Linked DNA regions of Homo sapiens: region 2 is linked to region 1. The links come from fine-mapping of genetic effects on gene expression. A gene starts in region 1. The other region holds a variant in brackets. All regions are shown on one strand. Distances are from middle to middle. Region 1 holds the start of CHMP4A (charged multivesicular body protein 4A). Region 2 holds the start of IPO4 (importin 4).

Region 1 (8,320 bases):
GAGACCAGACTGGCCAACATGGCAAAACCCTGTCTCTATGAAAAATACAAAAATTAGCCGGGCATAGTGGCACCTGGCTGAGGCAGGAGAATCACTTGAACCCGGGATGCAGGGGTTGCAGTGAGCCGAGATCGCGCCACTGCACTCCAGCCTGGGCGACAAAGTGAGACTCTGTCTCAAAAAAAAAAAAAAAAGAAAAGAAAAGAAATGGGTATTCGGGTGTATGAAGTACCTTGGTTCCTTTTCCCTCTTCCAGTGTCACCTTAACCACTACTGACACAATAGCAGGGAGACAAGGCTTCTCACACAATTGTTCCCAGACACAGAATTCAAACCAAGCCTTCTAGTAGTGAAAGCTACTAACTATGGGTTCTGGATAAAGGAAAGCTACTTGCTCCTTCCATTCCAAGTAGCAAAGCTACTTGCTCCTTCCATTCCAAGTAGCAAAGCTACTTGCTCCTTCCATTCCAAGTAGCAAAGCTACTTGCTCCTTCCATTCCAAGTAGCAAAGCTACTTGCTCCTTCCATTCCAAGTAGCAAAGCTACTTGCTCCTTCCATTCCAAGTAGCAAAGCTACTTGCTCCTTCCATGGTATTCTCCCTCCTTGTCCTTGAAAATGGGCTTTGTAAAAGAAATTTGGGGCTGTCTTGGCAGAGGCACGACCAGGGGAAAGCAATGAGGGAAGACTCAGAGATGCCTCCACGTGGTTCTAAGTGGTAGATGGCAGTTTCTTCAGCCTCAGCAACTAGGCAACTCTAGGACAAACCGGCTTGAAAGATGAAATAATGTTTGCCTGGAACATAGGTTGAGATACTAGGAATGCCCATTTGTTCTATGTTCCAACCCCCCTTCTTTGCTCTAATTATTCATTGCTTGAAATAAGGCTCCAAGGGCCAGGGGAACAGCTTCAGGGGTAGACAAGGCAGTATAGACACTAGGATTCCATCTGCCCAGTTTTATTGGGAACAAGGGCATTATAACTGCTATCAAAGAGAAGGGAGCCCAAGGGCTCCTTCTGTAGCAAGATCCTTCTTCAGAGTTGAGCCAGGGCTGGGAGGGTAAGAGACCCTTTTTTCAGGCAGGGTCACACTACCACCCTCAGCATGACTTCCCCAAAAAGTTATCCTCCTTTAGCTCAGCACTTGGCACTTAAGGAAGAAAGGACCAACAAAGGTAGCATTAGGAAGACAAGCCCAGATTTATCAGGATACCCACTCAGCCAACTGCTTTAGTGCTTCTTCATCTTCATCCACTTTGGGAGCTTTGAGGACAAAGATACCCAGAGAAAAGAAAGGAGAAGCAGTAAGGTCTCAGCAACTCCAACCATCCCCTGCTATGACATTCAGAGCCTGCTGAATTCTGTCTCCCCAGCAAAAAACCTAAAGGTATGGTCCTTCTGCTTGCTAGGCTGCTGTTCAATCCCACAGCACCTTTGTGCAAATTAGAAAAATGGTGCCTCTTGCTCCTGCCATTTGCAGCCCTAAACCAGGGTACACGGCTTGTTGAGTGAAGCACAGGCTAGGTGGGTGCCTATATGCAGTCAACAACCTGCACAACTGCAGCAGCAGCCCTTTCTGTGTGGCTCCTTTGAGGCAGGATGGATGAGGAATAATCTTTCCCCATATCTCTCCCACCCTCTTAAGTCCTCAAGACAACAGAACAACCCTGCATACCTGGCCCTGCCGGCAGATGAGTAGAAGGTACACTAGGCAATTTGACTGAGGGTTCTTCTTCCTTGTCGCCCACATTTAACAACTCCTGGGCCAATTCCTCCTGCTCCAGCTCCTCTAGCTCCTCCAGCAGTTCATCCTGGATAGGGAAGACAAGACCACTTTAGATGAAGAAAAAAACTTCTACCTCCAAAAACATACCACTTTTGAAGTTCCCTCCCAAACTTGTCCCAAGAGCCTCTCTTGGGTGTTCCTTCTGGCCAGTCCCATACTTTCTGCAATATTCCCTGACCCTTCACCCCCAATCACCTCATCCACATCATCTCCAAAGCCCATAGGCCGAGAAATGGCATCTGAGATCTGCTGGGCCACCTCCTGTTGTTCCGTGATGTCAGTCATCAGTTCATCTACCTTGTCAATGTCCCTGAGAATGAGATAGATAGCTAAGAAATCACGCAACAATGCCCCCTTGACTTTCTCATCTCACATGAATGAAACCCCTCCTGCCTTGCAGGGTCACACTGATAAGCCCATAACTATCAATCAGAAGAGATCCCTGGAAAATTGCAAAGATGCAAGTTGTGATCCCAGCACTTTGGGAGGCCAAGGCAGGTGGATCACCTGAGGTCAGGAGTTCAAGACCAGCCTGGCCAAAATGGCAAAACTCCATCTCTACTAAAAATACAAAAATGAGCTGGGCACAGTAGTGCACACCTGTAATCCCAGCTACTCAGGAGGCTGAGGCAGGAGAATCACTTGAACCCAGGAGGCGGAGGTTGCAGTGAGCCGAGATTGTGCCACTGCACTCCAGCCTGGGCGACAGAGCAAGACTCCATCTCAAAAAACAAAACAAAACAAAACAAAAAAAGAATTAGAGAAGGCATCTTTCCTCCCTAGAATGCCCCAGGCAGCGAAAGAATTTTATAGGAAGCAAGGGGCAGATGGATGTCTAGCCATCACAAGTATCTATACTGCAAATTCACATTCTGAGAGGCTTTAAAGTTTAAAGTGTGATAGCAAGCCACTCTTCCCAGTGCCTGGGTCCCCTCCACCCCTCCCCCCGTACCCACATGTCCTGGTAGGCCTTCTTCATGCTTTGGGCAGCAAGCTCCATGGTACGAAGGACTTCTGCATTGGTAGTGGCATTCTCAATGGCCTCACGCTGAAACTCCAGGGTGGATAATGTCCCGTCAGTTTGTGCCAGCTGCTGTTCGAATCTTTTCTTCCTCCGCAAAGCCTGTAGGGCAGCTGACCCAGCCCATACCCTGAACATCAAGAGTCAGAAGCACCTGCTTCCCATCTGGGCCCTCCCCATAGGCTTGTTTCCCTCATTACCTCTCTTATTCTTGGTCCCATACTTCTTGGCTGTTTGTAGCTCCTGTTGAATCTTCTGCTCCAAAAATTCCTGTTTCTTGATCAGTATCTTCTCTGTCTCCTTCAGTTTCTGTATTGCTTCTTCAGGGGTTGGCCCTTTCTCCTTCTTCCCTGAGGAGTCCAGTGGAGTAGGCCCAAATTTTGTGAAGGAAAAATATTAGCCACCAATCATTGAATACATAGTATGTGCTAGAGACCTGACTGTGTTATTGCTAATCCCCAAATCTCTACAATGAACGTGCTATCTCTTCACTTTAAAAATGTGAAAACAACCACAAAGATGTTAAAAATCACAACTAATAAGAGATTGTGCAGGAATCAAGATGTGGCAGTATGAGTTCTAAAACCAATATTCTTTTTACTATTCCTAGCTGCCTTTCTTTTTTTTTCTTTAGGCAGAGTTTCAGTCTTGTTGCCCAGGCTGGAACGCAATGGCGTGATCTCAGCTCACCTCAACCTCCGCCTCCTGGGTTCAAGCAATTCTCCTGCCTCAGCCTCCCAAATAGCTGGGATCACAGGCATGTGCCACCATGCCTGGCTAATTTTTTGTGTTTTTAGTACAGACAGGCTTTCTCCATGTTGGTCAGGCTGGTGTCGAACTCCCAACCTCAGGTGATCTGCCCGCCTCGGCCTCCCAAAGTGTTTTGATTACAGGCATGAGCCACCGCGCCAGGACTTCTTTTTTTGAGACAGAGTCTCGCTCTGTTGCCCAGGCCAGAGTGCAGTGGCATGATCTCAGCTCATTGCAACCTCCGTCTCCCGGGTTCAAGTGATTCTCCTGCCTCAGCCTCCCTGAGTAGCTGGGACTACAGGCACACACCATCATGCCCACCTAATTTTTTTTTTTTTTTTTGAGAATGGAGTCTCCCTCTGTCACCAAGGCTGGAGTGCATTGGTGCAATCTTGGCTCACTACAACCTCCGCCTCCTGGGTTCAAGCGATTCACCTGTCTCAGCCTCCCCCAGTAGCTGGGACTACAGGCGCGTGCCACCACAACCAGCTAATTTTTTTTTTTTTTTTGTATTTTTAGTAGAGACAAGGTTTCACCATGTTGTCCAGGCTGGTCTCGAACTCTTGACCTCAGGTGATCCACCCACCTCGGCCTCCCAAAGTGCTGGGATTACAGGCGTGAGCCACCGCGCCCGGCCAATTTTTATATTTTTAGTAGAGACGGGGTTTCACCATATTGGCCAGGCTGATCTCAAACTCCTGACCTCATGATCCACCCACGTCGGCCTCCCAAAGTGTTGCGAGTACAGGCGTGAGCCCCCGCGCCGGGCTAAGAAGGCAGTCTTTCTTCTTCACCTTAGATCCCTCTTGCCCAGCACAAAGTATTATAGAACAAGGTTTTGAAAATGGCTGAAGACAGCAGGAAACTCGTCTTCAAGCCTGAACAGTGGGAGTCAGCACGATCGCCACGCCCTCAACTCAAGTCCCCTCCCAGATCTTGAGTTCTTCCCTCTGAGAGTGGGGGAGGACGGCGGACGGGAACAAGGCGCCCCGACATGGTGTGCCTTTTGGCACCGGCGATGAGCCTTGCTCCGCCATCGGCCGCCGGGGTTTTCCAGTCAGCCTGTCTCCTGATTCTCTTCCCCTGCCCGGCGCAGCGGTCCGGCCGAATCTCGCCGGGGTCTCCTCTTCCCCTGCACCAGCCAGCGCCTCCTGGCTGGCCAGTCCCACCCTGGCTCACCCTTCCCGAAGAGCCTGCCGAGACCACTCATCGCGAGCTCGCCTCTCCCGCCTCCGCCCCTCAGCGTCCTCCAGACTTCCGCCTTGCTCCTGGGAGGGTGATGTCTCATCACACAGGGACCAGCCTTGCCCAATCCGTCCTCAGGGCGCCGCCGCGACATCAAGAGGCGCAAACGAGACCACCGGTGTCACGTGACCCAAGCCACCAGCCCCAGACCGACGCGCTCCTCTTAAAGCTGCCACATCATTTTCTATTAAGTAAAAAGACAGTTCTATCTCCACCTGAGTACGTGCTTGTTCTCCGGAAGGAAATGTGCAGTGTGATGGCACCTCAGTGTATGGGGTCAGTGGGAAAACTTCATGCTCTTTACAGAGCTCAGGAAAGTGGGGTGGTATAGGTTCAAGCACTTGGGGTTGCCCTAAGTTTAGATGGCAAACCTGATGCAGTCTAATGTCTCACATTCTGGTCTCTGCACCTCAGGACAACCAACCCCATTTCACAGGCTAGAAAAATAGAAACTCCCCACACTGTGGGTAAAATCTCTTCTGTCACACACAGATGAACTTTAATAAATTACAAATGCACCTGAAAATGCCTTCTTGATTTCCTTTCAGTTTAGGCCTCAAATGGGCTCTCCTCAAGGCTGGACCTCAAAGGCCCAGTTTGGGCCTTCGCAAATGTCTCTAACCCTTGACTTAGAGTTTGAAGATTCATTCCATTCTGGATGTGAATGCAGGTAACACCTAGAAAGATAAGAAGTCACATTTCATTAAGCTTTCAGGGTTCTCCATTATTACTCTGACCTTTGTGAGTGCCACCTATAGGGCAAACTATCCAACCTGTATGTATCTACCTAATCCCTCCTAGGGACCCCAAATGGCTGTTCCTCATCACTCAGTACCCAGTTTGCTGACGTCTACAATATTCCGCCTCTCATCATCAAAGAAGATCATCTGGGAGAAAGGAATTCCAGTCTTCTGCTGCAACCTATTCAAGACAGGGCAGGAGTAACCAAGCTAGTATCTTGGTTTCCCAGGCCTCTCTGATACTTTCTCACCCTGCTCCTCCCTTATCTCCGCATACCTCTCAAAGTGTGTGATCTTGCTGCCTGGATAGATTTCCCGATGAACAAAGTACCTGAAGAGGTCAAAGAGCTCCAGTAGCTGGTTGGCCCCTTCTATCTCACTTGTCCTGCAAAACGGTGTAAAAGATGGGATTAGCAAAGTGAAGGGCCAGGGCTACGTTAACTTATTAAGCAAAGTTAGTAAGTATAACCAGGGAAATCAACTTGCTGTTTTTCCGGGATGGACAGGCATCCTCAGCCTCTGTTTAACTCCATTGCCTTCCTATTTGACACAATTGGTGCTGGGCCAATGTTTTAGCTTTTGTTTTGAGACAGGGTCTAGCTCTGTTGCCCAGACTGGAGTGCAGCGACCCAATCACGGCTCACTGTGGTCACGACCTCCTGGGCTCAAGTGATCCTCCCACCTCAGCCTCCCAAGTAGCTGGGACTACAGGTGCACGCCACTACAATTTTTTTTTTTTTTTTGGTAGAGATAGGGTCTCCCTCTATTGCCTAGGCTGGTCTCAAATTCCTGGGCTCAAGTGATCCTCCCACCTAGGCCTCCCAAAATGCTAAGATTACAGGTGTGAGTCACTGTGTCTGGCCCCACTTTTTTTTTTTTTTTTTTTTTTGAGACATTGTCTCACTCTGTCACCCAGGCTGAAGTGCAGTGGCTCCATCTCAGCTCACTGCAACCTCCGCCTCCCGGGTTCAAGCGATTCTCCTGCCTCAGCCTCCCGAGTAGCTAGGATTACAGGTGCGTGCCACCACGCCCTGCTAATTTTTGTATTTTTAGTAGAGACGGGGTTTCACCATGTTGATCAGGCTGGTCTTGAACTCCCGATCTCGTGATCCACCCGCCTCGGCCTCCCAAAGTGCTGGGATTACAGACGTGAGCCACCGCGCCCGCCTGCTGGCCCCACTTTTTAATAGTTAAAAGGCACAGGAGAGCGTTCAAGGGAAAAAATATGTAAATACTTGGAAACTTGCACCGCCCCTATTTTTGTAGACCAGGGGTTTCACTGTCTCTTGCATGCACCCTTCAGCATTACACTGTCAGTTGTCAGTCGCTCTTCTTACCTTGAAGCAGCCGCACCGGGCACCCCAAGGCTCTGCAATCGTTTTAGGACCTCAGGCACCTCTGGGTACAGTCGGACGTCTTGGCCCCGCCTATCTCGTACAGTTCCATCACTGGAGAGGGCAAGAGTGCGCTCAGCCCTGGCTGGGTCCTATCTCGCCCCCAGTCTTCCCTGTCCCTACCTCACCTGCTCTTATGGAACGGAGGGTCTACGTGCGTGTCGACCCAGAAAGGCCAGAGAGTGTAATCTGCGAGAGGAAGGAGAGGGAAGGTTCAGCCTGGGGCGGGAGATGCAGGGATTCGGGAGCTGCTGTTAGGGATGTGGAAAAGGAGAGCACCTTACGAAATTCTCCCCTTCCCGTCCCTCACCCAAATCAAAGACTGCCAGCTTCGGTAGCCGCGCCATGACCCGCACCGCAGGCTGCGCGCAGCAGAGGTGGGGCTTCACCCGGGGCCTTAGAGAGTGCGGAACCTCCGGCAGCTAAGGCAGCCACCCTGCCTGCCATAGACAAATGGCGACTAGAGCGTCGCCACTCGGGGCGTCATCAGCCTGGAGATGGCGCAAGAGTGCCATCTGATGCTGGGCGGGGAAGAGGATTGCAGCGAGGTACCAACACGACCACACATGCAACCACAGCAGTCAAGTCTTTCTAAGGCATTGGCCACGGGCATCCTCCCTACTTCTCCACTCCACCCAGCCTTGCCCGATTCTATTATACTAAGAAGCCAGGGAAGAAGGAAAGCCTTTTCTTCTAGCACCTGCCTCTTCTTGAGACCCAAGTGATACATCACAGCTTGTCACTCAATCTTTCTGCATTATCAACCTCCTGACAGTGTAGAACCCAAAGTCCTCAGTAATATTCCAGCCATAGAGTACAGTGTCAGCCAAACCCTTGAAGGCGTTCTCCAACCAGGCCTAAATGTCCAGTACAGCCACAGTCAAGAGAGAATTCACTCTCCGAAGGTTTCACCATCCATGTCAGCACTACACTGGTAGATGTATAACAACCAGTTTGTGGGGAGGAACTGATCTGTAGTGTTTGCTAGTTTCTGTAAATAATCCTACCATGGCCAATTTCAAGCTACCAACATGAAGTCACTTAATAGAGTTGGAAAAAGGTGCCAATAATTGGCTCTCATTAGCCACTAGGAACTGGTTCCAACACACCACTAAGTAGGTTTTCCTAGAGTCTGATAATCCCCGTAAGAGCACCATTCCTTCCACTGTCCGATTCCTTCAGCCTGCTATAACTGAGTGAGCATTAGGTCCATTTTTATTTCAGTCAACTTGTGCAACAGAAGAAAGATTCCAGGAGGCCAGGAAATATTTTATTGACAACCAGGGACACAGTCATAAGAGAGGGAAGCACACAGGACTGCAAACTAACACCCAGTAGCCAGCAAGGGCCCTCTGGGCCAGGAATACTGAATCCTGGGATCCTCAC
Region 2 (8,320 bases), 28 kb before region 1:
CAGGGCAGCAGCCCCAGACCCCAGGTCTAGGAGGGTGGTCAGGACCAAGGAGTGGCAGAATCTCTTATCAGGGGGGTGGTTGCACCTGGTACTGATTCACAGGCATCCAAGACAACTATGAACATGAGAAGAACCAATGAAACTTGGTGCTAATGATTTTTTTTGGAGGGAATGGGGGATGTGGGACAAGATGATTAAAGTCATAGCCTCAAGACCTAAAGAAACCCAGACACTCAGGAGCTTCACCTACACAACAGTCTCTAAAGGTATAAGACAAGGGTGACACAAACACTCTGACATGACTCCAAACCTAGCTACTTGGTACAGGCAAAATCTCTTCAGAGAGCAGAGCTGATCTGATTGAAATGTATGGTGTGGTGGCCCAGAGGTACCCTGGGCTCCACAGAGCACAGTTTGAAAGGGCCCCGGTTTAGGAAACCAGCCTAGGAAAACTGCAACTTCTGGCTCAGACCAAAGGGTAGAAATGGAGCTTCCTCAGGAAAAATGCTACGTGGAGAAAGGAAGTCCCTCCTGTCCCATCACAGGACTGGCTGCCAATCCTTGCAGACAAATAAGAAATGGTGCAGGGAGTACCAAAAGAACAGCTGAAACTGTCACCTTGCATCAGGTGCAACTGACAGCCTGGAGCTCCCGAGCCTCATCAGCAGACAGTGCCTATCACTGAGTGGAGCGGCACGTTCCCCTCTGAGGGCTGCCAGCAGCAAGGTTACCTGGTCAGGGCTGCTCTGGTACAGGAAGCTGAAGAGGCGCCCAATGGTGACCCACTCCTCCAAGTCCTCCTTCAGTGGCAGGGCATGCAGTAGGGCAGCCAGCACCTGGGCACACAAATGTCTCAGGCCAACCTGCCCTGCCCTCCACCACCCTCCCTCCTCAGCTTCCAAGCCCTGCCTGATGTCTCCCTCCCTCACCTGGGGCTCTGGTTTCCTGGTGGGACTGGCCATCAACAGGCGGGCAAGTGCCCCACAGATGTTGTCACGGACACGATCATGTCGCTCCCGCGCCAGGAGGGGAAAAAGGAGCCCCAGCAGCTTGGGGAAGTGTCTGGTCCACAGTCAAGGAATGGCCACACGCTCAGGTAGACCTTGCCCACCTGCAAGCCCTGGGGACACTCCCCCAACCTCCAGTCCCTCCCGTCCTGCGAGCCAAGGATACTCCTGGGCAGGGTGGCCCCCATGCTCTGCCAGCACGCCCATCCCGAAGATGGCATTGCTTCGCACCTCGGGGTCTGCCTCTTGGGCGGTGCTCAACAGCACAGGGAGCAGCCGAGACACAAACTGGGCTGAGGCAGCACCCAGGCCCTGAATAGTCTCTGCCAAGGTCCCCACTGCAAAGGACTTCTCTGCCACTGTGCAGCCCTGTTTCTGATGGGGGAGAACAGGAAGGAGTACAGATCAGCCTGGGCCAAGGATAAAGGCTGTGGTGGGCACCGGGTGCACGAGGGGACTAGGGCTTGAAGCCAGAAGATGGACACTCACTGTCTTGCACACCAATAATGGCAGGAAACCGGCAAAGAATGGGGCAAAGGAGTCTCCCCCAGCCGCGGCTGCCAGGGCAGGGATGGCCTCTCCAGCGTGCTCCAGCAACATGGCGTCGTATTCAGCCTGTGGAGCCAGGTCAGGGGCTGGAGCACCAGGGCCAGCTCAGTGACTGTACACCTCCCTCCCACGCTCTGCCACCAGCTGCAGGGGTCCCTGGGGCTGCCCTTGGTTGATAGGGCTGGCCCCTCTCAAGCTGGGTGTTTCCATGACCCAGCTTCTTCCCCTGGCTCTTCTGCTCCTACCTATCACTCCAAGCACACCCCAGTCCACACTGCTCTCCTTCCCTGAACTCCCACTGGCTTAGTGGGATCAGGGTTGTATCCCTCTGGCCATTACCAGTCTCTTTTAGTGGCCCTGGCTGCCCCAGGCCAAGCCCAAATACACTGTCCACCCCTGTCCCTGTGGAGACTGCCTGGACCGCCTGGTCCCCGTTTTTATCCCTGGCTCTCACCTGATCATCATCTTCCTCTTCCTCCTCCTCGTCAGTATCCTGACAGGCTGTCTACAAGAAGTAGCTCAACTTAGCGGAGCTTTCACGCCCCTTCTCTTTTCATGGGGGTAGGGGGTGGACTTGTAGCCAGTCCCCAACCGAGGCCCAGCACCTCTCCTTCCCGAAGCCCACCTGCCCTGCTCACCTTCCTCTGCAGCACAGCCTTGAGCACGCCACAGAGCTCAGCGAGGCGCCCAGGGGGCTTCAGTGTGAGGGTCCCACAGCTGCGGAGCACCCCTGTCAGGGCCTCCAGCACGGCCATCACCACCTGGCGTTCCCGCTCCCTGTTCACTGCCTGCATGTAGGATGGCACGACTCGGGCCAGGGCAGCCTGCAAAGCTGGGGACATTATTGGCTGAAGCACCAGTCAGGCCCTGCCCCTCCCCAAGAACCCCCAGCCTGGCCCAGCCTCTCCTCACCAGCAGTGTTGGGTTCCGAGGGGCAGCTTTGACAGGCCTTGTGCAGTGCACAGCAAAACTGACCCAGAGCCTCATGGGCTGCCTTCCGCACATTCAGGTGAGGGCACTGCAGGATGAGGAGGGGCGGGATATGTCTGCTATGTGCACCGTGAACACAGGGCCCCCAGCCTGAGAACCCCACCCACTCCACCCGCCGGCCCGCTCACCTCCAGCAGTTTAAATACTTCTTCAAAGACACTTTCCATGTATGGAAGGAAGGCCACACTACAGAGAGAGACACAGCCGTGGGTAAGGGGCCCCCAGGCAGGGTTTTCAGTGCCAGGGAAGGGCGAATGCTCACCTGGTGTTCACAGAGATCTCCCCCACGGCAGCACAGGTGTCTTCCTTCTCATCGAAGAAGGCATTCTCCACGCTGTACCTAGAGTAAGAAGGGGAGGCAGTGGTGATCAGGCACCAAGAGGAGCAGATCCAGCACTAGGCCCTTGTCTAAAGCCAAAGTCTAGATTCCTGATCAGAAGAGCACCCCTCCGCACCCTGAGATCTCTGAGTCATCCTCTTCTTCCACATCCTCATCCATGAGCTCCTCCTCTTCTTCCCCATCACTCTCATCGTCAAACAGAAGGAAGGAGCTGCTCCCGTCATACTGAGGCTGGAGCGGAGGCACGGCAAGGACTTTGGCTCAGCTGGGCCCAGGAGATAAATCCCATTGCAGGGCAGGCCTGGCCCAGCCCACCCACCCTTTGCTCACCACAATGCCCTCGGTGGAACGCAGTGACAGCAGCATGAGCGTGGTGATCTGTTCCAAGTGGGGCGCCAGGCCCTCACCCATCAGACCCGATAAGGCTGCAAATAGGCTGTACCTGGTCAAAGCAGGCAGAAGAAGCTGTAAGGTCCTGCCTGCTACCACCAGGCAGGATGGGGGAGCCCGGGAACACCTGGCTATGGTCCAAACCAGACGACTGGAGTCTGGGGTGGGGATTCCAGTGGGTCCAGTGGGAAGACAGGAGGGGAGGGGACAAGGGCAGAGGCAGGGTGAGGGGTCACTCACGTGCAGCGCCGCAAGTCAGGGTCGTCTACCTGGTCGCAGAGGCCCAGACCCAGCTGGCAGCATTCCTCAGCCAGCGGCCTCATGGGCTCCCCCACTGCTCGTGCCAGCACCCCCAGTGTCTCTGTGGGGGCAAGGGCTCCATTAGCACCAGGAGGTGGAGGTGGGCTACGGGACCAAAGGTGGTGGCTGGGAGGGATTCAGAAATCCCGCCCCACCCCTTGGTACAGCATGAAGCACACCCCTTTGATGAGAAGGAAGACATCCGTGCTCCTGTGGGGGCAATCTGTCAACACCAGGTGAGCACCAGCCCTTTGCTGGCACTGGGAGCCCCACCTGGGAACCTCTCACTCACCCAGGCTCTGGATCTGCACAGGCTGAAGGTCCTCACGGCCTGTTAACAGGAATTCCCGCAGGTGCTCCATGATGGCAGGGAAGTAGGGCAGCAGCGAGGCCTGGGCAGCCGTAGCTGCAGGATGGAAGGACAGAATCAGAGCTGGAGAGGGCAGGGACCACCAGCCACAGGGCCTTTGGGTGAACCCCACATCCCTGCCTCCTGCCTCTCTCCTCACCAATGGCTCCCAGGGCGCTCACAGCCAGCTCCTTGGCCCGGGGACTGCTGGGGTTCCTCAGAAGCTGCAGCATGCATTCCATAAGCTCCGGAAGGTAGGGCTGCACCTTGGGCCCTGTGGGAAAGGATGCTCCTCTACCAACCAACCCAGGTCTGCTACCTGCACGCCCACCTCCCTCCAGGCGGAAACCTTTTTTTGGCACCATCACACCCTTTCCCCTACCACAGGCAGCAATGCAGGGAGATGCACATCCTGTACATTCAGCCAAAGCCGCCGCCTCATCCCCCTTCCCCAAGCTCCCCACTGCCATCACTACCTAGGTTCTCCACAAAATTCTCCAGGGCATAGCAGGCCTTGGCTAGGTGGTGTGTGTGTCCAAGAGGCACCGACTTCAAGTAGGCGAGGAGCAGTGGCAT[T/C]ACCTCCCTTGAATAGCTGCTGATATGGGGCTGGGGGAGGGAGCAAGCAGGGCCTGAGTCAGGTTCACCTGCCGGGCACACACAAGAGTGCTGATGGCAGCAGGGATGCTTGAAGAGATGAAAGATGAGGGGAAGGGGACATTCAAGTGGTGGCTCCCACATTCAGCCTGGTTCACCTGTAGGTTTTCTGAGAACTGGCCCAGGGCAAACAGCGCAGCATTGCGTACAACTTGCGAGGGGTCCTCCAGGCCCTTGCACACAATCTGCAGCAGTGGGGGCAGCAGTCTGGATGGGGCAAACAAGAGGACATAGGCTGAGAAGCTACACCTGAGAGCCCTAGGCTGACCTGTTCTCTTCATTTTCCCTGGAAAAACCAAGGCTTTTCCTGTCACCAGAGGGTGGGCAGCAGCCCCTGGTCCCTATAGCTGGTAAGCCATGTCATTTATCTTCCAAGCCAGGACACTTTTGATAATGGGGGGAAACGCTGTTGATAAATAAGCTTGAACAACAAGCGTAAACCAGGACAGCCATGGTCCTCCCTGTGGGCAACCCTCACCCTGGGACAGGGGAATACATACCTCTGCCTGATGTGGTCGCCAGCTCCGTCAGACAGCACGGCCAGCACCAGGAGTCCAGCTTTGCGCTGGTATGGGCTCTCGCTCCGCAAAGCCTCTTCCAACATGGGCATCTAGGGAAGCATGTGGCACGCTTCTGAAACCCCAGCAAGAGCCTGCCCATTCCTGTGGTAATAGGCCTTCACACCTCCCAGGGTCTAAACGTCGTTGGCCTCAGGGGGACTAGGCACACTTGGAGGTAGGGACACCAGAAGGACAGAGCCACACTTACCAGCTGGGGACAGAGCTTCTCGGGGGGCAGGTGTAGTGCCAGCATGTCCACAACCTGAGATGGGATGGGGAGACTTACTTTGCTTGACTCCATCTCTGCCTCCCCAACGTCCCACAGCCACCTAACACCTTCCCCCTCTGTCCTGCCCCACATCTCACTTGTACAGCGAAATGCTTGGGAGTCTCCCCCATCAGCTCAATCTCCAACTCTTCCTCTTCTGAATCCTGGTCCTCGGGATCCAACTGGCCTGGTGGGGGCTCAGCAGCCACAATGGGGAAAAGGGTGTGCAGCAAGGGTGGCAGGAGACGATTCTTCAGTAAGGCCTTGACAGAGAAGGTGGAACAGTGTCCCTAAGAATCTGCTCCCAGGATGGGCTCACATTAAAAATTCCAGTCTTCCAGGCCATAAGGGGTCTGACAGAAAATTCCCAACCTCCCAGGCAGGAGCTGGGGTGAGGCCAGGCCAAGGCTTGAACCCCCACAGTACTTTAGATACCCTGAGATGGACCGAAAGCCCCAGGAGTGAGACTAAGGGTGGAGATGGGGGTGGGGTGATGTGTGTCAATGGGCACTCACTTACCTTGCTCTTGACTTTGACCAAGAAAGTGAGGCAGCAGAGAATACGTATGCGTATCGCATTGCCCAGGGCCACATTTCTAGCTACCTGTCCACAGAATAATAAAAATCAGCGACAGGGAAGGAGAGTCCCAGCAGAGCATGTAGCAGGGGCCATGTCCACTCCAGGCTCACCTCCAGGCAGAATGTGAGGACTTCAGAGAGGTAGGGGGTGATGACCGGCACCTCTGACTCCAACAGTTCATCCAAAGCCTCAAGGGCCTCACAGGCCTTTGCCTGACAGACAAACAAGGCACAAGGTTACCATGCTCTTCTTCAGTGGGCCAAACTGGACACTTCTGCACTCTCCTTCCAACAGAGCTCCTGCCCACCTGTCCTCACCTCATCTATGGGGATCAGAGTCTGCATGGCCATGATCAGCTTGGGCACCAACATCCGAGCGAGAGGCTGAGGGACACATCACAGAGAGCATGATGCAGCCCAATCTCACACCCCAGCAGCTGGCAGCTTCCTCACAGCCTGAATTGCGAGGAGGAGCCCAGGCATAACAGCCAGGCCCACCTACAGCATCCCCTCTCAATTGTCAGGAAGGGCCACAGGCAGGTAAAGAATCCAAAGCAGCTTTGTAACTTTTACGGGTGAGGACATGAAGGCATGAGGAAAGGGAGTCAAAGATAACGAGGGCCCACATCTCACCACATCTTCAGTGCTGAGGTAGGGAGCCATGGTGGTCAGAGTGCGCAGGGAGTAGAAGAGCAGCCCAGGAGAGCCCACCTCACCAAGAGTCTCATTCAGAAGCCGAAGAAGCTCCCGGTGGTGGGGTTGGAAGGCCTCGGGCCGGGAGGTCACCACCACACTTAGCAGCAAAAGCCCCATCTGTCCAAGAATAGAGGATGGGAGAGCAAGCTTACAAGGTCTATCCAGCCTCTCAGGCCCTCCCTCCTGCCAACCATGTGATGGTACCTCTCTCTCTGGGCTGTGGGGGCTGTGGGTACTGTGCTGAAGCAGCTGCAAAAGCTGTGGCCAGGCCTCCAAGCCTTCCTTTCGAAAAATGGTGGCTGAGAGCTGGGCCAGGCTGAGGCTCACACAGTGCCTGCAAACAGGAGAGATCTCCTCCAATCACCCTTCAATACCTTCCTCTGCACACAGTGGCCAGGCTCAATGGGGCAGCCAGGACAGAAACTTTCAGGAGGTGTGGGCACAGGGTCTTTGCCAAGTTGGGACACATGAGACAGCAGCTCAGAGGGAGCCCAACAGCACTGTGGGCATGTAATCTGGTAAGTTCAGTCTAACTTAGCCTGAATTTCAGTCTTATTCTTCTGACTTGGGTTTGGCAGATCATCATCACCCTTCCTCAAGAACTTTAGTCTTCAAAACAGCCTTAAAATCCTCACTCCACCTTGCGTCTAGAACTGAAGTCCCTGCCCCACAAGTCCCAGCCTGGAGCCGAAAAGGAAGGCAGAAACCTAGACAAAGTCGTCAAGATCCCGAGAGAAGTGGGTAGGTACTTACTCTGTTTCTCTCTGCAGGGCCGTCAGGATCAGGGACTTGAGGCTGGAACACAGGTGGCAGGTGTTTGGTACCCAGCCTGCCCAAGAAAAGTCTCCGCCTGGCCCCGCCCCACCCCAGGCCCAGCCCACCTCTCCCGTTGCTCCGCCGCCAGCCGTCGCCAGCGGGTGTTCAGTCGTCTGCGGGTCAGCACGGCCGCAAACTGGCGGATCTAGGACGAGGAAGCAAGCACGTGGGGGTCCGGGCAGGAAGGTGCTGAGCGGACCGCAGTGGGCGAATACTGGGGCTTGACCGGTGGCGTACAGTGGGAAGCTCGGAGGGGAGAGTCAGGGGTCTCACCTGGGGGTCGGCCGCCGAGGCTAGCAGGTCGCAGAGAGCCGGCAAAGCGGCGGGGGCCCGAAGAACGATCTGGAGCTGTTCCGTGGCCTGGGGGGAAGCTAGGGGTGAGAGTTGGGCCTTTCCCGCAACCTCCCGCTCGCCCTGGCCCGGTTACGCCTGCTCCGTACCCGACGGATGCGCTCGGTGTCCGGTAGCAGCAGCTCCCGTAGGAGCTGCTCTAGCCCGGCTGACTCCATGGCAGCAACTGAGCCGCCGCTACTGGGCCGAAAAGGGGAGGGGGAGGGACAGCACGTGGAGGTTCTGACACCCACTTCCGGAGGAAAGGGCGTTGCTGCACGCCCCGCGGGTTGCCAAGGTGATTCAATTCGCTTCCCACAAAGAGGTCCGGCTCCTCCACTTCCGTTAGGCTGAGCACCGGCTGAATCGCGGAAACCCGACTCTGGCAATGTAGGTTCCCCACGCCGGGAGTTCCCAAGCTGGGTTGGAGAACTCGAGCTTCGGGCATTCAGTGGCCAGCTCGGCTTTATAAAGGACCGTGCCCTTAACAGCA

What was found.
Region 2: its variant is fine-mapped to the expression of CHMP4A in monocytes (TOPMed, PIP 0.98).

What each region holds. Positions count from the first base shown.
Region 1 is chr14:24,208,675-24,216,994 of GRCh38, forward strand. CHMP4A (charged multivesicular body protein 4A) reads right to left here and starts at 4,814. Exons shown (of 6, transcript NM_014169.5): 1 at 4,735-4,814; 2 at 3,006-3,155; 3 at 2,741-2,918; 4 at 1,980-2,094; 5 at 1,674-1,809; 6 at 941-1,261. The coding sequence starts at 4,765. The coding sequence ends at 1,203. It overlaps NEDD8-MDP1 (NEDD8-MDP1 readthrough), which reads right to left. Exons shown (of 7, transcript NM_001199823.3): 4 at 6,878-6,988; 5 at 5,818-5,925; 6 at 5,636-5,721; 7 at 5,269-5,477. The coding sequence ends at 5,350. MDP1 (magnesium dependent phosphatase 1) reads right to left here and starts at 7,392. Exons shown (of 6, transcript NM_138476.4): 1 at 7,245-7,392; 2 at 7,063-7,123; 3 at 6,878-6,988; 4 at 5,818-5,925; 5 at 5,636-5,721; 6 at 5,269-5,477. The coding sequence starts at 7,281. The coding sequence ends at 5,350. NEDD8 (NEDD8 ubiquitin like modifier) reads right to left here. Exons shown (of 4, transcript NM_006156.3): 4 at 8,183-8,320. RefSeq lists enhancers at 4,223-4,342, 4,297-5,105, 4,533-5,032, 4,669-4,963, 6,118-6,856 and 1 more.
Region 2 is chr14:24,180,782-24,189,101 of GRCh38, forward strand. It overlaps IPO4 (importin 4), which reads right to left and starts at 8,035. Exons shown (of 30, transcript NM_024658.4): 1 at 7,938-8,035; 2 at 7,771-7,857; 3 at 7,563-7,642; 4 at 7,435-7,476; 5 at 6,886-7,015; 6 at 6,619-6,798; 7 at 6,304-6,369; 8 at 6,097-6,198; 9 at 5,927-6,010; 10 at 5,506-5,670; 11 at 5,348-5,401; 12 at 5,080-5,189; 13 at 4,678-4,786; 14 at 4,402-4,531; 14 more. The coding sequence starts at 8,006. It also overlaps a transcript of REC8 not described here. RefSeq lists silencers at 7,031-7,241, 7,487-7,606. The variant T/C (reference allele first, on the strand shown) is at 4,502.